Homo sapiens: one gene and its partners. The protein of the gene in region 3 purifies or fractionates together with the protein of the main gene of each other region. This does not show direct contact. Each region holds a gene or a part of one and is shown on either strand. Other genes may lie near its edges.

Region 1 (5,145 bases), on a different chromosome or scaffold from region 3:
ATATAAATATACATGTATTTGGTTAAATATTAAATGCTACTTGTTTATTTTTACCTTTTTTTAAATGTGGAAACTAAGAAAATTAACATATGTGGCTTAGGCCATATTTCTGTTCTACAGCATTGTTTTAGATTATGGTAACAATATATAATGCCTGGCATAGGCAGATTCAAGAAAGTTTTTGATTCTAAGGACTTTATGACTTTACCCAGGCTTTTTTTCTGTGAGTTTTCTATTTTCAGAGTGTTGGTCTGCATTATATCTAAGAGACTAGAAGCTGCCTGATAGACTAACTGCATCTGGTCCCTTGGAAATAATTTATCAAGTCAACATCGACTGCTGTGGGGTTCTAGATTTAGCCATGCTGTTTATTCTTCATTTTGTTTCTGCAGTTGTCTGAGTGCTGATCTTTCTTTCTTTCTTTTTTTTTTTTTTTTGGAGACAGTTTCGCTCTTTCGCCCAGGCGGAGTGCAGTTGCGCGATCTCAGCTCACTGCAAGTTCGCCTCCTGGGTTCCCACCATTCTCCTGCCTCAGCCTCCGGAGTAGCTGGGACTACAGGCGCCCACCACCACGCCCAGCTAATTTTTTGTATTTTTAGTAGAGATGGGGTTTCTCCGTGTTACCAGGATGGTCTCGATCTCCTGACCTCATGATCCGCCCGCCTCGGCCTCCGGAAGTGCTGGGATTACAGGCGTCAGCCACCATGCCCGGCCCGAGTGCTGATCATTCTAAGCAAGATAATATTCATAATTAGCTTAGTTTTTACTAGAAATGTGCATTTTTATTGTTTAATTTTAATTTTTTTATTCTCAAAAGGAAGTAAACGTGTATTTTTTAAAAAATATCAAAATGAAACTCAAGATTTGAGTTTATAAACATAGTTGAAAGATTTTATTCTCAGATATTCTTTATTTTGCTTTTTTTCCTGGAGTTTCTCTGTTATAAAATTTAGTATAAGAAAAACATTCTAGGCCAGGTGTGGTGGCTCAAACCTGTAACCTCGGCACTTTGGGAGACACACAGGAGGATTGCTTTGGGCCAGGAGTTTAAGGCCAGATTGGGCAACATAGTGAGACCCTGTGTCTACAAAAATTAAAAATTAGCTGGGCATGGCGGTGCCTGCCTTTAGTCCCAGCTACTTGGGAGACTGAGGCAGGAGTATTGCTTGAACACAGGAGTTCAAGGCGGCAGTGAGCTATGATTGTGCCAGTACATTCCAGCCTGGATGACAGAGTAAGACCCTGTCTCTAAAAAATAAAAATTAAAAAAAAGAAAGAAACAAAAACATTCTTGATTGGATATTTATATGGGAAATACTATGAGACTTATTTTTAAGCCAATACTTCAAGTTAGAAATTATATATATAATTTTTTTTTTGAGATAAGGCCTCACTTTGTCTCCCAGGCTGTACTGCAGTGATGTGATCACAGCTCACTGCAACCCCAAACTCCTGGGCTCAAATGATCCTCCTGCCTCAGCCTCCTGAGTAGCTAAGACTTCAGGCATTTGCCACCACACCCAGCTAATTAAAAAAAAAAAAAAATTGTAGAGGTGGGGGTCTCACTATGTTTCCCAGGCTGGTCTCAGACTCCTGGACTCAAGCGATCCTCCTGTCTCAGCCTCCCAAAGTGCTGAGATTACAGGTGTGAGCCACTGTGCCCAGACGATGTTTGTATTTAATTTTTTTGCATATATGGTTATAATGCATTCAGTAAACATTCACCTGTATTGTGAATGACATGCATTGAATTTCTGTTACTTCTCAGCACTTGGGAATGGCTCTGAGGGAACTGTTTGACTCTTGGGTGTGCTTAGGAGAAAACTAGAACACAAATTTTTTTGCTGACTGGCTCACTTAAAATTGTACAATTTTTAATTTTCGTATTTTCTTATCCTATACATGGTATTGGCAAATTCTTTTGATTTTTTTTTTTTTTTAAGACAGTCTCGCTTTGTCACCCAGGCTAGAGTGCAGTGGCGCGATCTCCGCTCACTGCAACCTCCGCCCCCCACCCCCCCCAGCCCCGCCCAGATTCAGGTGATTCTCCTGCCTCAGCCTCCTGAGTAGCTGGGATTACAGGCACGTCCCACCATGCCCAACGGATTTTTTCGTATTGTTAGTAGAGACAGGGTTTCGCCATGTTGGCCAGGCCAGTCTCGAACCCTGGACCTCAGATGATCAATCCACTTCGGCCTCCCAGAGTGCTGGGATTACAGGTGTGACCCATCCCACCAGGCCTTCCTTTGAAATTTTTAGCATGTAGTTTATCCTCCTTAACATTAAGTTATGGCTTATGCAGATAATCATACTTGTTTCTCTTTAAAACTATTAGATTGTCCAAAATTTAGATGAAATACCAAATTAAGGATATTAATTAGTTAAGCTGTGTCTGTCTCCACATTTTAATTGGAAGTGAAGTTCCCCCTCAGGAAAGGAGGAAGAATAGGATGATATGCATAGGTATCAATCATTCATTCATTCACGTACATTTTGGAAAAGTTAGGAACAGAAACAGATGTTGTATATATGTAGCTTATTCTTACTGTGTGAAGCCGGTAAAGCTGGTACAGGTTATTTTTATTCTTTCTTTAAGCATTATGTTATAGAAAATTTCAATCACCTGCAAAAGTAGAGATAATGGTATAATGAGCCCCTTTATGGTATAAAGTTGGGCAAATGGTATAATTTATCCTTTACCCAACTTTTACAGTTATCGGCACATGACCAATCTTGTTTTATCTATTCCCCCCACCCACTATCCTCACTCCCTTTAGTGATTTTGAAGCAAATCCCAGACATTATATAATTTTACCCATAAATATTTCTGTATTTATCTCCAAAATCGCTTCTTCCTTTCCTTCCATTCTCAAATTCTTATTTTTACAAGTGTAGAAATTTTATTTTATGTCAGTTACATCAGTGATTATTAATATAAGTTAATGTAAAACTCTCCCCTTAACTCTTGATTTAATTCAGTTATATTAATAATAAAAGGTACATGCATAATATGTATTGCTAATAAATTTACTAAGAATCTGTCAAATTCTAAGCAGGAGATGTAGTTCTTTAAAAGTCAACTGCTCTTTTTCTATGGATACCTCTGTGGGGAGAAGAAATCAAAGAAAGACACATGAATCAAAAAATGCTTTGCTTCAAAACATCATGTTGTGCACCATAAATATACAGAATTTTTGTCAATTTTTTAAAAAATGCATTTTAAAAAGTGTTTTACTTATAACATGAATACATCTAAGTGTTTGGGGAGCAAATCGTATCTCCCTTTTTGTTGTTGCTAAAAATGATATATCCAGAACCATTTCTCTCGTCTTTCTCTGCCACCACCCTCAACTAAACTACTGCTACCTCTTACCTAGATTATTGCAAAAGCTTCCTAGTTCATCTCATTGTTTCTCCCCTTCTGTCCTTGCAGTCTGTTTTCAATATACCCACCAGAGTGATCTTATTAAACAGGTTAGATCATATAATTCCTCTGCCTAAGATTTTCCAAGTGCTTGCTCTTTTGTTCAGAGTAAAAGCCAAAGTCTCTGCTTGATCTGTATGCCAACCCCTACACTTCTTCCAATCCATTTCTCATCCTCCATCACTATTCTCTCACTCTTTATTCACACTAGCCTTATTGCAATTCAGAAGTCCCAGGCATACTTCAGTTTTAGGAGCTTTGTCCTGACTGTTACTACCTCTACCTGGAATGTTCTTCCTGCAGACATCTGCTGGCTCCTTCGCTCCTTTCAAGTCTTTATTCAAATATTGCGTTATTCATGAGTGAAGCTTTTTCCAGCCATTCAGTATAATGTTCTGACCCTCCCCATTACTTCCCTGTTGCCTTTCCTTGCTTGATTTCTCAGCACTTAATGCTATTTAACCTACTCCAAAACTTGCTAGTCTCATTTATCTCAGGAAGGAAGGGATTTTGTCTGCTTTAGTTTTGTTCTCCATTTAACAAAAGCCATTTCTCAACTCTGCATCCCCTTTTAGGTGACACCATTTCTTTCTCATGTATTGATGAATTGAGTCATTTTCTGTAAGTGAATTAGTTTTCTGTGATAGCATATTTGTTGCTAGGCTTTGGAACTACCAAAATGAAGTAATCCCTGCCCCAGCCAATCTTATGGGGGGTTCTTTTTTTCTAATGTATATTCGGATTGTTGCCAATTTTTTCCTGTTACAAAAAGTGTTACAATGACTATTATTGTTTATTTATTTATTTATTTTGAAGTTAAATACCCAGAAGTGGAATTGCTGGGTCATGGGTCACGTACATTATGACTGTTACTAAATATTGCCAAAGTATTTTCTAAAACAGAGTTCTCCTTTCCCTACATCTTGCTCAACACTTTGTACTGTCAGACTTGAAAAAACGTACCAGTCTGATGGGTGTGAAATAGTGTCTCATTTTGTTCTAATTTGCATTTTCTTGATTGCTGGTGAGATGCAGGTATCCTCAATTTCATTCACATGAATAGATTGCCCGTTTTCCATTGGGTAGTTTGGCCTTTCCTAATTCTTGCTATAGCCTGGATGCCAATTCTTTGTTGTATATGTTGTAAATATCTTCTAGTCTGTTCCGTGTATTTAATTTAGTTTATGGTATCTTTTTTTATACAGAAAGTTTAAATTTATTTGTAGGTAAATTTATTAGACATATGATTTCTGCTTTTTATTACATATTTGACAATTCCTTTGTTATACTAGGATCATAAAGCTGTTTTTCCAGCGTTTTCTTCAAATTGTTTTAAAATTAGTTTTTTAACATTTAGATCTTTAAAGATACCTGGAATCAATTTTTGTATATGGAATAAGGAAGGGAATTTGTTTTCTCCCGTATAGAAAGTTGTGTCAATGCTGTTTATTGAATGAGGCATCCTTCCTCCACGAGTCTGTGTTGTTTGCCTTCTCTGTCATAAGTGACACATTTAGGACACGTACCAGCATTCTCTTTCACATACTCTGTCATATACCAGCATTCTCTTTCATATACCTTGGTCTCATTCTAGATTCTGTATTCCATTTCATTCATTTCTTGGTGCACAAATAATGCTCTGTCTTAATTATAGTATTTTAATGATAAGTCTTGGTATTTGGCAGGCAGAACCCCCACCTTCTTTTTTTTTCTTTTTACAA
Region 2 (5,145 bases), on a different chromosome or scaffold from region 3:
TGTACTCCAAAATAGGGATTACATTGATCCTTTAATCCCAGGTGTAAGATATATTAACTTAAAATAATTAAAAGCAACAAAAATGTTTCCAGCCTATCTCACCACCATGTTGTATAGTAATAGGATGTTAAGAACATATATTCTTTATCTGAAAAAGTCAAATTTTGTCGTAAATGTGCAATTTCAGAGGGTACCTGTTAGGGTATTTCAGAGCTTAATGGGTTTAGAGGAACAAGGAGAATGGGAAGAAGGCAGAGGTTTTTGTTTAAGAATACATAATAATTGGCCTTTGATCCTCATCACCTGTTTCCTCAATTATCTTTAAACTTGGGCTAATATGCACTTCAGTTATTCTAGAAATGACAACCTATTATCTACTTAGGTATTGGTTCTTTGACCAATACCAGTAGATTTCAAAAACATTCTTGGGATTGTACTGCTCTGTGATGCTCATTCCATTCCTTGCTCCTCGATATGCGGCACTGAATTTTTCATAGTCTTATTTACTCCAAGATTATCCTATGTTTTGATATTTGTGATAGAAAAGAATGAAAATAGCTTTTCTTATAACAAATGAAAGTGAAAGTAGACAGTAACTTTTTGTTGAATGTTTTTACTTGATAATTTCAGTGGTAGTTCTGTTTCTATATATATAAATTTTATATACATATATAAAATTTTATGTGTGTATACATTAAATTGTCATAAAATTATGATGGTTGGGAATCGCCATGCTACCATACAGAAATAAACAAAAACACAAAAGAAGGACTATTTCCTGTTTCTTAACATAGCTTATTTCTTATTTTGATAAAGTTTACAAAATAATTTGGCTCATTTAGAATTGATTTTTCTACTACTAAATCCATTCATTTCCTGAAAAACTGTGAGGCAAGATGAACAATATTAAAATTACAAAGAAAATGAATGTGGAATATATTTTAAAATTCATAGAAATATCTACTCTAAATTGCTTTTGGAAATAGAAAATATATTTTTCATTATGATCATAATTTTAGAAATGTGAGTGTAACTGATGATCTTTTTCTGTGTTAGGTAACGCGGATTTGATTAATAGAGTCTTGCTTGATGCAGGCTTTACAAATGAACTTGTCCAAAATTACTGGAGTAAGCAGAAAAATATGTAAGTATTTGTTCTTATTAATAAAAATATGTATTCTGCATTTCAATTTAGTTTCTCCTGTGGAAATTGGGTATGAATCTCATAAATTTACAGTTCATTAATAATGTTTAATATTTCTCAAGAAAATCACTATACAGTTGTTGACAACTTGCATTTTCAGTTGTGGGTGTTTTTCAGTACTAATGTCTGCTATTACTCAACTTTTCATGCACATACACTTCAGGGTGAATACACCAAATTAAATGGGCATGATTGTGTGTTTCTGTTTGTGCTAAAGTAGGATTTCTAGTCAGTGTTTATTTGGGTTTCTAATAGCATTACCATACATCCAGTTGAGAAAATCTGAGTATGATTCTTATTTAAAATCTCTTCTCCACCCCATTTTCAGTCACTAAATGCTAAATATTTCTCCTAGCAATGTTTTCTTCTCTACCTCATAATGAAGGCCCTAAGATCCCATTTCTAAGAAATCACAGCAACTGATTTTTCTGCCTTTAGTGTTCTCCATTCCTCCACATGCAGCTTCTAGACAATTCTCCATACAACTCATATTGGCCAGAATCTAACTCCTAAAATGCAGTTCTAAGTTCAAGATACAGGTGAAGCTCTCTAAGATGGAATTCAAAATCATTCATTAGCTGACCATTGAGGAACTTGCACTTGAAACTTTACTTCTTACTGTTTCTCTCCTTTTGTCTTACGTTTTTTTTCTATACCAAACACCAGCCATCTCTGGTAGCTTTCCCTTATGTATACATTCCTCTCTACAAGTGATACCTTCCTGCTTTCTGTGTCATTGCTGTCAATTCATACTCCATGTTCAAAATGCACCTCAGTCATTATTTCCTATGAGATGTCTTCCTTAAACATCCTTCAAGTACAAATTTAATAGATATTTAAATTATTAAAACATAGTTGTGTATCTATTGATATATTTCCTTTACTTCCTAAACTTACTTCTCTTTGTATCACCAACACCTAACTTTGTTTTTTAGAATATGTTCAATAGAACATTTCCTTGTTTTGTCTTCTGTTTCAGCAAGGGAGTGAAAGCACGATTTGTTGTGACTGATGGTGGGATTACCAGAGTTTATCCCAAAGAGTAAGTTCAAATAACATCTGTAAAAACAAGTACATTACAAAAGACTGCGCCAAGGATTTGTACATTACTGCTTAAGGAAGCCATTCTTCAAATAAACTGATTGCCATTAGATTACATTGGAGCCATTGTTTACAGTATTTACATTATTAAAAGATTTTATTTCTCTGAAAAATGACATTATAAAATTCTTCAATGATGTTTTTGCTTGCCAAATATGTTTATTACAACATTTAAGAGACGTTTAAAGAGATTTTTCTCTTTGTAGATACAAGCTAAACCAGTGAAATGAACACAATGATTATAACCAATCAGCAATATTTATGTAGCACTTTATTATCTTTCACTCTTCTTTGATGCATCTTATCTCTATTATCTTCGTAACAGTCCATGAAGTAGGCTGAGTAGGCACCAATGCTTACTAACATTAATTGACCTATTAACTTACTTGTCCTGTTACCTGACTAGTAAACAACGGAGTAAAACTAGGAGTTAGCTTTTTCTGATTCTTAATTTAGTGCTATGCTGATGCATTGCTCAGTAATGAGTATCAGTTATGCTATCAATTACCACTAACTTCTTTAGACATACCTGAGATGTAGGCGTATCTGTAAAGCTCAGCAAGTCCACATAGGATAAAGTAGGTTATCAGGTAGATTAAAGAATACAAATGATGAGCCATTTCCTCCTTAGGGCTGGAGAAAATTGGCAAGAAAACCCAGAGACATATGAGGACAGCTTCTATAAAAGGAGCCTAGATAATGATAACTATGTTTTCACTGCTCCCTACTTTAACAGTAAGTATTGCTTTGGAATTCAGCTTTTCTCAATTTTTTAAATAATAAATTACTGCTACTATCTGCTCTCCCCCCAAATCACTACATTTTATGTTAACTACTCAGAATAGTCATCATTAAAAATAGAGTATTTGCAAGGCATTAGGAAAATAGAAAAGAAACATCATTTAGTTGAAGAAGCAAAATGCATACACAGCAAACAGTCTTCCAGTAATTTAGAGATAGCATATCTGTTAGGCATGCATAAGAAATAGAAACACATGTAGATAATCCCTCATATTACAACTGAAAATGTATTGAAAAACATTTAAGGAATTAAATAGAGTAATTCCATTGATTAATTACATTTTATCAGTATTATAAAATATAATTATACAATTAATAATAGCTTATCTTTTAAAATATTTTATTGACTTATTTCCCAAAAACCTTGTAATTTAATCCCTGAACATCTTTGCACATAGGTAGTATTTACCTTCATTTTCCTAAATGGGGAAACAAGTTCAGAGAATTTCAAAGTTTTGCCCAGTGACATACGTCTTATAAAAGACAAAGTCAGTTTTATGCATCCAGGATCAATCTTTCCACTTCACTTCAGCAGAACTACTTAATATTTTAACAAATGTTGTGAAGTAGAGATTTGGCATGTATTCATTATGTTGTGAAAGCAGATGCAACCAAGCTAATTAATGTCCCCGAATCAATTAATACAAACCAATTCATGGATATACCAGTTAGCCTAGTGTATACAACGGAAGAAGAGAGGAAGGAGAGCACAAACATTTTATAGTTTGTAGATGCTAGAATTTTTAAGCAAAATACTATCCATTTGTATCTAATGACGGAAAATCAATATTATTATTCAATATATCTTGATAGGTGTTTTATTTATTTATTTTTTTTTTAGAAAGTGGACCTGGTGCCTATGAATCGGGCATTATGGTAAGCAAAGCTGTAGAAATATATATTCAAGGGAAACTTCTTAAACCTGCAGGTAAGGATAAATATTAAATACAAAAACACAATCAAAATTAAATGTTACTTGGCATTTATATTATAAACTGGCAATGTTTATCAAGAAGGTCATCAAAAGGTGTCAAACAAAATAAAGGCATGCACACTTAAAAAAATTAAATAAAATATGACTAGTTACCTCTGAAGTTGGGATAAAATCAAATTGATACTACATAGATTTGAGGAATTTTCAAAACAGTGTGTATGTTTATACTCTGACACAAATTGATGGAATCAATTTAGTATAATAATCAAAATTTTTAATGTTGGATTAGCAACCCACCTCCAGAAGTCTCTCTTAATACTTTAAAATACGTACAAAGTTATATGGCCAAGGAGTTACATATTTGTACAAAAAAGTTAAGTTTCCAGCCCTGAGGGAAAAGATAAATATGGCATATTTATACTATATTCTAGTAGGCGTCTGTTAAAGTGAATTAGGTAGGGCTCAGTTAAAAACTTGCTATAAAATATATAGAAAAATGACTTTTTGGAAAAATAGGCAAGTAAACAAACATAGTAAAAGTGAGCATTAATGAGGATCGGAAGTGGGCTAGAGTGAGTGAATACAATAAAGTAAAAGCTATTAGTTTTTTTGATTGTATGATTCAGTGTTTGAAGTTTTAAAGGAGAGTATTTTGAGCCTTCCTGCTCCTGAGGACAGCTTTACCCCATCAGCGGATCTATTACATGAATTCACTCCATCACTTACTCACTAACTCACTTACCTATTCCTTCATTCACTCAATTGCTCAATTACTTACTAAATCAGTTATTCTCTCAGCCATTCATTTATTCACCCACTCTCCTACTAACCCACCTACTCATCCATTCATCTGTTCACTCTTTCAGCAAAGATTTATTAAGCACCTACTGCAAGCACTGGTGGGGTTAGGGAAACATCTTAAAATATACCGTTTGAATGACCTCAAGTTTATGAGGCTCTCCTGACACTACTGTTTTTTATTTAGCTTATTGTATTAGTTAATTGGTCAGGTTGTGGCTAATGAATACACTCTTTTGTGAATATGTTACAATTTATGTAATAGTTTAAGAGCTATTAGCATTATTTCTTAATGAACACAAAACTA
Region 3 (5,684 bases):
AATAGCTCAAATGACCTCTAATTTTTCTTTAATCCAGTTTTTTCCCTACAACACCACCTTCTCTCAGTGCATTTAATCAGAAACTTTCACTGCATCTCAAGGATTAGATGTCAGCTGACTTTCCTTTTTTGTTTTGTTTTGTTTGGGGTTTTTGAAATTTTTTTTTTTTTTTTTTTTTTTTGAGACGGAGTCTCGCTCTTGTTGCCCAGGCTGGAGTGCAGTGGCTGGGATCTCGGCTCACCGCAGCCTTGACTTTCCCTGTTCAAGCAATCTTCCCACTTCAGTCTCCCAACTACCTGGCACTATAGGCACACACCACCATGCCTAGCTAATTTTTGTATTTTTTATAGAGGTGAGGTCTCGCTATTTTGCCCAGGCTGGGCTCAGTTGACTTTCTAAGCCGTTTTATGTTTTTCTTAGTTTTATGGTTTTCTTAGGCATATTCCTCCTGCTCTCCCTAAGACTAGATTGATCTGAACATAGACATAACAGAATAAACAGAATTTGGAAGGAAATGATTAATTTACCAGCAAACACCTCATGCAAATTAAAAGGAATGGTACCATATATGATAAAATAAAATCTGAAGCATCTTAAAGATCACTTGGGCTGGGTGCGGTGGCTCACACCTGTAATCCCAGCACTTTGGGAGGCCAAGGCAGGCGGATTTCTTGAGGCCAGGAGTTCAAGAGTAGCCTGGCCAACATGGCAAAGCCCCATCTTTACTAAAAATAAAATTTTAAAAATATCACTTGTTTCTGCTCTTACAAAAACAAACAACAGAACTATTCTGGCCCACATACTGAATATCTGGGTCTAGTTTACGTCTTTGGAAGTTGTGTGGCATGCTTTATTTCAGCAAAGATTTTTTTTTGGGGGGGGTGTGGGGTTTGACATAAAGGATTATAGATGGGTGATAAGGCTACTTTGTAGTTTTTTGAGAGTCTAGGTCACTTAGCACAAAATTCTATAGAAGCTAAATTAGGTGACTTTAGTAAGAATAGTCAGGGCAAGGCCAGGCACGGCGGCTCACACCTGTAATCCCAGCACTTTGAGTGGCTGAGGCGGGTGGAGCACTTGAGGTCAGGAGTTCAAAACCAGCCTGACCAACAAGGCAAAACCCTGTCTCTACTAAAAATACAAAAATTAGCCAGGCCTGGTGGCGGGTGCCTGTGGTCTCAGCTACTCAGGAGACTGAGGTGGGAGAATCGCTTGAACCCAGGAGGCAGTGGTTGCGGTGAGTGGGGAGATTGTGCCACTACACTCCAGACTCCAGCCTGGGTGACAGAGGGAGACTCTGTCTCAAAAAAAAAAAAAAAAAAAAAAAGAATAGTCAGGGAAAGGTGTTATTCATGTATTTATCTCTCTAATCACTTGTATTTCAGAAAGATCTGGATCTGGGTGTCTGCTTTTTTTTTTTTTTTTTTTTGGATGGGATTTCAAATGTCATCGGCTGCAGAAGAGGGTGGGCCCCAGTACATAAAGCCACCAGAAGTGGATGGGCTTCTGCGTATAAAGCTATTGCTCTTGGCAGCTCTGTCTGAAGGAGGAGGACAAGAGACTCCAGGGTATGGAAAGGGATTTTCATAGTGGCGGGCAGCAGGAAGGAGCAGAAGTTGGACCTGAAGGCAGGAAGCCAGCTTGGTTCTAGAAAGAAAGAAACTGGGGGCACAGAAAAAAACAGGTAACTCAAGGGATCCTCCTGCCTCAGCTTCTGAGATTCAGATTCTATCTGTATTAACTGAAAAATGTTATATGTGGCCAGACTTACAAGGTTTATTGCCCTGTCCTAGCTTTGCGTTACGGGCACTGTTTTCATCAGAAATGTTCTGGGACAGACTCAGTTTCAAAGATCCTGTTCAGTTTTCCTATTATACGGAGGCCTTGCCCTGATGTGGACTTTAAATTTAAAATAGTCATTGCACCCCTAGAAAAGTCCAGAGCTACAGAGAGTTGTACACAGTAAAATGCTTTGGAGGAGGGAGAATAGGATGCATTTCTTTAAGTTGAGGTATAATCTACATACAAACAAAGATTTTAAGTGTTTATAATTGTATACACCCACATAACTATATCCCATCAAGATATAGGATATTTCATCAACCCAGAAAATTGCCTCCTGCCCTTTTACCATCAATTCTTACCCACCCCCACCTCCAAGATGACCGTAGTTGTGATTTCTATCAGCATGAAGTAGTTTCGGTTGTTTTGGACCTGGCGTAAATGAAATCTTCATGCTATGTCCTTTTTGTATCTGGATTCTTGTACACAGGATAATGTTTGAGACTGCTTTATTTTCTTCCGTGTATCAGTGATTTGTTTTGTTGTTTTTTTTTCAAATCATCTTTGTTGAAGTACATCTTTTTTTTCTTAATCTGTTTTCTGTTGCTTATAACAATACCTGAACGTGGGAAATTTAGAAAGAAAAGAGCTTTATTTCTTACAGTTATGGAGGCTGGGAAGTCCAAGGTTTAGGGGGCACTTCTTTCTAATATGGACTCTAAAGAATCCCAAGGTGGCGCAGGTATCACATGGTCAGAGGGCTAAGGCTGCAAGCTCAGGGCTTTCTCTTAGAAAACCACCAGTTCCCCTCCCATGATGACCCATTAATACATTAACCTTTGACTCCATTAATTCATGAATGAGCTAATTCATTCATGAGCACAGAGCCCTTATGATCTAATCACTCTTGAAAAGCCCCACCCCCTCTTTTTTTTTTTTTTTTTTTTTTACAACAGGGTCTCACTGTCCAGCCCAACCTGGAATGCAATGGTGCAATCATGGCTCACTGCAGCCTTGATATCCTGGGCTCAAGGGATTTTCCTGCCTCAGCTTCTCAGTAGCTAGGACTACAGGCATATACCACCATGCCCAGTCATTTACTTAATTTTTTTGTAGAACCGTGTTCTTGCTATCTTGACCAGTCTGATCTTGAACTCCCGGCCTCAAGCAATCCTGCCTCAGCCTCTCAAAGTGCTGGGATTATAGGTGTGAGCCACTGCACCCAGCCTGGGATTAAGATTTAACATGAGTTTTGAAGAGGACAGATATTCAAACCCTAGCAGTGTGGTTTACAAATAAGAAAATGTATATTATAAGTGTATAGTATGAATGCATGAGTTTGGACAAATGTTTGTAATCATCACCACAATCAAGGTGTAGAGTGTTTTGGTCACCCCAGGAAGTTCCCCTGCGCTCTATTGCAGTCACTCTCTTCCCTACCTCCCACCCCAGGCAACCACCAATCCGATTTCCATCACTACAGATAAGTTTTGCTTGTTTTAGGACTTTATATGTTAATGAAATCATACATTTTTTTGTGTCTGGATTCCTTGGCACAGCAAATTTTTCTTTTTATGTTCATTCACGTATTTGCAGTAGTTCACTCCTTTTTATTGCTAATTAGTATTGGTTGCCAAAATTTATCATTATTTATTCATTCCCCATTTAATGGACATTTAGTTGCTTCTCATTTTTTCACAAATATAAATATATGAACATTCTTGGATAGATTGCCAAATGATTTTCCAAAGGGTTGGTGCCATTTTACATTCGAACAAGCAATGTATATGGATTCACTTGCTGTAAATCTTTGCCAACATTTGGTATGCTGGCCTCTGTAGCCATTCTAGTGCTAGTTTTCTCTCCTAGTCTTAACTTAGGATTTCTGATTACTTATGTTGAGTATCTTTGCATGTGCTCTTGGCCAACCACATCTTTTGCAAAGTATTTAAATCTTTTGTTCATCTATTCTTATTGAGTTACAGGGGTTCTTTATTTTGGAGACAATTCTTTTATCAGATATTGCTTTTAAGACTATTTTCTCTTCAGTCTGTGGCTTCCCTTTCTAATTTCTTTGCCTTTGTGTGTGTGTGTCTGTGTGTGGTATTTTTTTGTACAGACAAAAAAAGGTGTTGTCCAGGCTGGTCTTGAACTCCCAGGCTCAAGTGACCCTCCTGCTTCAGCTTCCCAAAGTGCTGGGATTACAGTCGTGAGCCACTGCACCTGGTCCCTTGCCAGTTTCTTAACAGTACCTCTTGAGAAGCAGATGTGGCTTTTTTTTTTTTTTTTTTTTTTTTTTTGGAGACAGAGTTTCATTCTGTCGCCCAGGCTGGAGTGCAATAGCGGGATCTCGGCTCACTACAACCTCCACCTCCTGGGTTCAAGCGATTCTTCTACCTCAGCCTCCCGAGTAGCTGGGATTACAGGCTTGTGCCACCACGCCTGGGTAATTTTTGTATTTTTAGTAGAGACGGGGTTTCGCCATGTTGGCCAGGATGGTCTCAAACTCCTGACCTCAAGTAATCCACCTACCTCGGCCTCCCAAAATGCTGGGACTATAGGCATGAGCCACGGTGCCCAGCCTCCTTTCCATTCAGTTTCTTAACAGTACCTCTTGATAAGCAGATGTGGCTTTTTGATGAAATGCAATTTATCTTTTTTTTCTTTTAAGATTCTTTTTATTATTTCAAATATGTGCCAGTCCCTAGGTAACGAAGATCTGTTTCCTTCTGGATGGCATGCTGTGGTGTTAGTATTTGTTATGTCAAATTAGTTTTTGTGTATGGAGTGAGGCAGTGATCAGTAAGATGCATTTCAAGTAAGATGAAGTTACAGCCAGAATACAATAACTCCCTAGAAGTTGGTGGAACCACCTTCCAATTTTTATTTTATTTTATTATTTTATTTTATTTTATTTTATTTTATTTTTTTGAGACAGAGTCTCGCTCTGTCACCCAGGCCACAATGCAGTGGCACTATCTTGGCTTACTGCAGCCTCCACCTCCTGGGTTCAAGAGATTCTTGTGCCTCAGCCTCCCAAGTAGCTGGGAGTATAGGAACCCACCACCATGCCCAGCTAATTCTTTTGTATTTGTATTAGAGACGGGGTTTCACCATTTTGGCCAGGCTGGTCTCGAACTCCTGACCTGAGGTGATCTGCCTGTCTCAGCCTCCCAAAATGCTGGGATTAAAGGCGGGAGCCACCGCGCCTGGCCACCACCCACTAATTCTGACTGCAGCAGAACGACGGTGGTTAAGCAAGACCCTGGAATCCTTTCCCCTGCCTTCCTTCAGGACCATCTTGCCCTGACTTAAGCTGACTGCAGCCCTTTGCTTTATTTGAATGTTTTACTGAAAGTTATATTCTCTTCTATTTTAGTAATAAGCAGATTAAAAGGCATAATTAGTTTGTCTGCTCTGATATGTCAGCTAAAAGCAAATATTTTTGTTTTTAGTAATCAGACTTTGAGTTTGCTCTGTCTAGGGAAGGGCTTGACTCTAGCAGTGTTGAAAGCCTGGGAGGTGGGCTTTTTGGAAACTGTAACTGATATAACATAAAATGTATTTGGTCTTTAAGCTAAAACTTTTGGGAATTCCTGAGTAACAGGTGTCTTTTTATTCATAATGACCCTCTTTGATAACGTGTTTATGCTAATAAGATAGCTTGGAGTGGGGTCCATAGATAGTCTAAAAACTGGGGGGGAAGGAGCTGAAGATCATGCTCTGTAAGATTCGTTTTTCTTTTTTTTAATATTTAAAGAGATGGGGTCTCTATGTTGCCCAGGCGGGTCTTGAACTGGCTAATTTTTATATTTTTAGTACAGACCGAGTTTTGCCATGTTGGCCAGGCTGGTCTCGAACTCCTAACTTCAGGTGATCCACCCGTCTCGGCCTCCCAAAGT
Region 4 (5,145 bases), on a different chromosome or scaffold from region 3:
ATCGGATAAATTCCAGATTTCACAGACAAGGCCACAAACCGTCATGAAATTAAATCTCTACAAATTAACATGAGTTAATATCAAAAGCCCTATTGTTTATACATGGAGACTTTCCAAAAAGTCTCACAGCATGCCACTGAGAAAACTGGAATGTTCCCTTAAAATCACATTTAAATAACAAAAAACAAAAAAGTCATGGCATTTAAAAAATAAAAGTAAGTGAGAGAAATATTCATCTAACCAATCCTAATGACCTGTCTTGATTCTTAGGTGATTAAGCATGCTGAAGCAGTGAGGGTCAAGTGACCCAATGAGCAGTACAGGTTGTATAGACCAAAACAGTTCCTTAATGGAGAAGTTGATGGAAACACCTGAGATGATGTTAGAAACATTTAATAACTGGGGGGGGCAATAGATGCTGATTATAAACTACTACTGTGTACTCACTAAACATGATCCTAATGATGCTAACTCCCTTGCTGTGGCTGCACATTGCTGACATGTCGTTTGATTCTCTGAGTAGAGCTACTTATTAGATGGCAATATTCTGTGCAGTTTCAAGGCCTAAGGTATAGCATCTCTTGTAAAATAAATGGATACTTTGGTGTGTAGACAAATCTTACTCATTGAGTTAATCTGAATCATTTCCCTCAAGTCTGATTATTTCCAAATGAACTGGGCAACTGAATTTATAAACTTGTTTTATTCCAGGGACCAAGCTCATGAGCTTACAAACTTGGGATACCCCTACCAAGGTGCAGACATATTTTTTAAGGCTCAGTCTGAAAATACAACAGCTTCTCTCCTTAGCCATCTTAATTTTGGTGTTTCATAATTTAGTTACAAACTTAACTTTTCTGAGTATACTTCAAGTGGTTTCTGGCTTATAGCAACCAATGCTCTAGGCCATTCAAAGGAAATTTCAATGTTTGAACATACAATTTCTTCACTACATCCCCTAATTACAAAGTTCATGATAAAGGCTAGTTCACAATTATCACCAGGTAAAGATAATGAAAGTTTAATTTGGAAACGTGCAAATTGAAGAAGAACCCAATTTTTAAAAGTTGCCATCACATTCAATTTATAGCCTTTTCGTATTAGCATAATGGACCTTGAAATTACAAGGGAGAGGGAAAATGTGGAGAGCATTAATATTTATTGAGTGCCTATTATGTGCTCCAGATGTTTTACATATATGTTACTCATTAATCCTCTAAATAACCCTGACCTCAGCAACCCTCACCCCACCCTTCTGTGCCACTATTCCACCTTTTGCTGTCCCAATGGAAACCAGGCTAGATGCCTTTATCAGATCCTCCTATAGCACTGGAATCCTGTACTCAGAGCACTTCTTACACTTTCTTATTACTTGTTTAATTGTCTTTTCCCAAACAGACTATAAGTCTCACGAAGGGGGTTACTTCTTATTGACTGCTATATCTCTAGCACCTATTATGACATAAGACTCACAGAAGATATCACTAGTATTTAATTAGTATTAATGAAGGAATCACCACAGAAGACAGTAACATATCTGAGGATAAGACTGGGATTTGAAATTCATGTATTTCCTACAAACAAGCAATTATATACTAATGGAAAGGCTTTTCCAGAATATCAGTACATGCACTAGTAATATACTAGCAGGAGATCTTTAGATGCTGTTTTAAAGTGGGAATAGTTCCTATTAGATTAGTATTCAGTTCCTATAAAAAGGATTTCAACATTACACTTAATGGTAGAATACTATGGTACAATGGGAAAGTATTGCCTAAAACCAAAATATGGCAGATAACATTATGAAACTTTGTTTCTAATTTGTGGCAAGTAATGAATCTGCAGCATTACTAGTACCATCTTATGTATTAAGTGTCTTAGTCCACTCAGGCTGCTATAACAAAATACCCAGCTAGGTGGCTTATAAACAACAGAAATTTATGTCTCATAGTTCTGGAGGCTGGGAAGTCCAAGATTAAGGCAAAGTCAGTGTCTGGTGAGGAACCTTGTTCATGGATAGTGACTTCTAGCTCTGTCCACAGATGCTGTCAGGAGCAAGCGGTGTCTCTAGGGCCTCTTTAACAAGAGCACTAATCTCACTCATGAGGGTCCCACCCTCAAGATCTAATCACCTCACAAAGGCCCTACCTCCTAATACCATCATCTTGGGAGTTAGGTTTCAACATATGAATTCTGAGGGAACACATTCAGACCATATCATTTAGGCACTGTCACTTTAAAGCTTTATCTATTTCTTTCTGTAGCATGTGTGAAGGCTTCTGAAGACCAGCTTTTGAGGAAACCAATGGCCCTGAAAATACCTCAAAAGAAGCTTGAAATTGAAATTAGTGTTGACGTAGTTGGGGGCTACCTACCCTGGGGTTATCCGACTGCAAAAATAAATGGAAGTAAAGTACTATGAATTATCCAATTTATCTTTCTTGGTTGAACTTCTTACAAAAAGTATAGCCCTAATTATTCTGTGAGTTTGAACTGTTGCCTGGACTCAACTTGTTTAAATGTTAAATAAAATATGTTGTCTCTTCTCTCCACAATGAAAACATTCTTTCCTTACTGCCAGTTAATTCCAGTGGAAATGGGAGGCAACCTCAGAGTCTAGTAATCTACAATCTGTGATTGTTTATTAACTATAATGTGGTTGTTCAAAGTCATTACCAAGTCTATCCAAAGGTAACTCTGATTCAACTGTACACAGATAAAAACAATGAACCTAATTTTTAAGTCAGGAGGAATCTTGGAAAATCCTTTTATTTTCCTTTTAATACCCTGAAGCAGGGAGGTTAAAGATGATGTTCCAACCATTAGTGAGTGGCAGACCAGGGAGGAGAGTAAACTCAGGATTCCCAGAGCCTAACAGGAAGGGAAAAATAGCTTCTTGTCTGTTTATTAATCAGATTACTGGCATTTACCTTCCACTGATGTAAATGTTGTAATCGAGGTAGTCTGACCATGCAGGAAAGGATCCAACTTAATTGTGTGTGTTCAGACACCTAAAGAAATAAAATAGAACATTAGTAAAGGTGGCCAGTGTTTTCTTGCATATAAGAAGAACTAAGTAGTAAGTATTACCCTAAATGTCTGAAAATACCCCAAATTAAGGTTATTATAAGAACAGGTGAAGGGGGCTTAGTTCTGATTCATGAAGCATAGACTCTTAGGTGAAGAAAAAAATCATACAAGCTAACTGATTTGGTTATTAATCTAGTGTTTAAGTCTACTCCACAATACCCCACCAGATTCTGCTTCAACATCTTCAGTGAGAAAGTTTCATGATGTCCTGAGGCATCTGTTCTATCTGTAAAAAGCCAAGCTTATTAAGAAGGCACACACACACTCTCTCTCTCTCTATCACACACTCACATACTCACACACACTCACACACTGGTTCCAAGCCTCTCTAAATAACTTCTAAATACATCAAAGCAGCTATAGTACTTTACATATAAGTGGTGGAAAAAGGTACTGGACTTAACATTAAAGATTGAATTCTTTAGATATAGGGTAACTTGAAAGTTAGAGATCACTTTATCATTCCATCACCCCAAAAGGTATTTTTATAGTTTCTACTTCCTCCTCTCCCTCCTCTTTTTCATCTTCCTCTCCTCCTTTTCTGTTTTTTTTTTTTTTTTTTTTTTTTAAGAAGAAGTCTAATCAGCAAGAAAATATAAACTTTCCCCAATTTTTTTTTTTTTTTGAGACAGAGTCTCACTCTGTCGCCCAGGCTGCAGTGCAGTGGTGTGATCTCAGTTCACAGCAACCTCCGACTCCCAGGTTCAAGCAATTCTCTGCCTCAGCCTCCTGAGTAGCTGGGATTACAAGTACCTGTCACCACATCCGGCTAATTTTTTTTTTTTTTTGTCTTTTTAGGAAAGACAGGGTTTCACCATCTTGACCAGACTTGTCTTGAACTCCTGACCTCGTGATCCACCCACCCCAGCGTCCCAAAGTGCTGGAGTTACAGGCGTGAGCCACTGCGCCCAGCCCCAAATTTGTTTGTTTCAACCAAATTTAATCAAGCTACCAAACCTGATGACCTAGAATTTAAGGCCTATGCATCCCGTTTCTTTACTCTGGGGATTACAAGCCCTTCATCAACTGTGGCTTTTTTTTTTTTTTTCATCCACATGATTTCCTTAAAAAGCAGAGACTGCTGCCAACTCTGAAAAGTGGCCCCAAATGTGTTCTTTGTGGGTTTTGCAAAAAGAACATAAAGGAGTGGAGCTGAATCAGCCCAGGCCTGTTCTACTAACAAGGAATCGCCATCTGTTGTAAGATAGTTTCTCATTTTTTTCCTCAAGTTATAGAGAGGGAAGAGTTGTTTTTCACGTGTTTGATAAGGAATCACTTTTAAAGTTTTGCAAGTCCCTGGGCTGAATCTGTCATCTTTCTTCCAAGAGGCATTTGGGTTTCATTCAGGGCAGTGACATTGACACACTGTCCATGCAAATTGCTAACTGCTGCTGTAAACAAATAGCTATCAGACAAAAACAGAAACTAACCCTGGATGTAGGCAAGAGGACTAGAGTTGCTTCCAATCACCAAGGAAAATACATTCCCATTAGAAGTAATAAAACAAGAGCTGTTTTTCTGGCATGAAGAAGTAGGAGAGAATTTTTTTTTTCTTCTTTACTGAATTGGAAGAAAGGAATGAAAACACAGATAATAACCATGGATATGTGGAAGGAGACAAGATGACGCCTCTTTAACTCTGATTCAAATGCTTAGCTTTGGTGATACGCAAAAAGCTACCACTATGTCTCCACGAAGCTGAGTATTTTCCTTGGAGTAGCTTTTTATTTGGACATATGGAATGAAACTTACTTAATATTCTGCAGAGATCTTCCTGGTGTTTCCAAAATGGTGAGCATAAAATTAATTCAAATTATCTTCATACAGAAAAAGTAGGTAAAAGGTCAATGGCAATTAATTTTTTACAATTCATTTTTAATAATTATATAAGAAGGGTAGGATACTTCAGGATTTGGTTGTCTTACTTCATTCATATTCATGACAATTGCATGGAAAGGTTCAGAGTTCCACTTGGGAGAAAAAGGAAAAATGGTATCTAAATATAATATTTTATCATTTATGCTGTGAAACCAAAAACAAACTAGCTGTATAACC

Evidence for each region.
Region 1: the proteins of SLC19A3 (region 3) and ATP11B purify together in Homo sapiens (affinity purification with mass spectrometry; one large-scale study listed by BioGRID and IntAct). This does not show direct contact.
Region 2: the proteins of SLC19A3 (region 3) and CACNA2D1 purify together in Homo sapiens (affinity purification with mass spectrometry; one large-scale study listed by BioGRID and IntAct). This does not show direct contact.
Region 4: the proteins of SLC19A3 (region 3) and WARS2 fractionate together in Homo sapiens (co-fractionation; one large-scale study listed by BioGRID). This does not show direct contact.

The regions. Positions count from the first base shown.
Region 1 is NC_000003.12:182,798,861-182,804,005, forward strand, and holds part of ATP11B (phospholipid-transporting ATPase IF), read left to right. Parts: intron 1-5,145. UniProt on the Homo sapiens protein: Catalytic component of a P4-ATPase flippase complex which catalyzes the hydrolysis of ATP coupled to the transport of aminophospholipids, phosphatidylserines (PS) and phosphatidylethanolamines (PE), from the outer to the inner leaflet of intracellular membranes.
Region 2 is NC_000007.14:81,967,776-81,972,920, reverse strand, and holds part of CACNA2D1 (voltage-dependent calcium channel subunit alpha-2/delta-1 isoform 1 preproprotein), read left to right. Parts: intron 1-1,056; coding exon 1,057-1,144; intron 1,145-2,183; coding exon 2,184-2,246; intron 2,247-2,936; coding exon 2,937-3,040; intron 3,041-3,947; coding exon 3,948-4,034; intron 4,035-5,145. UniProt on the Homo sapiens protein: The alpha-2/delta subunit of voltage-dependent calcium channels regulates calcium current density and activation/inactivation kinetics of the calcium channel. Plays an important role in excitation-contraction coupling.
Region 3 is NC_000002.12:227,710,449-227,716,132, reverse strand, and holds part of SLC19A3 (thiamine transporter 2), read left to right. Parts: intron 1-1,508; exon of another isoform or gene 1,509-1,684; intron 1,685-5,684. UniProt on the Homo sapiens protein: Mediates high affinity thiamine uptake, probably via a proton anti-port mechanism. Has no folate transport activity. Mediates H(+)-dependent pyridoxine transport.
Region 4 is NC_000001.11:119,042,652-119,047,796, forward strand, and holds part of WARS2 (tryptophan--tRNA ligase, mitochondrial isoform 1 precursor), read right to left. Parts: intron 4,882-5,145; exon of another isoform or gene 4,754-4,881; intron 3,012-4,753; coding exon 2,931-3,011; intron 1-2,930. UniProt on the Homo sapiens protein: Catalyzes the attachment of tryptophan to tRNA(Trp) in a two-step reaction: tryptophan is first activated by ATP to form Trp-AMP and then transferred to the acceptor end of tRNA(Trp).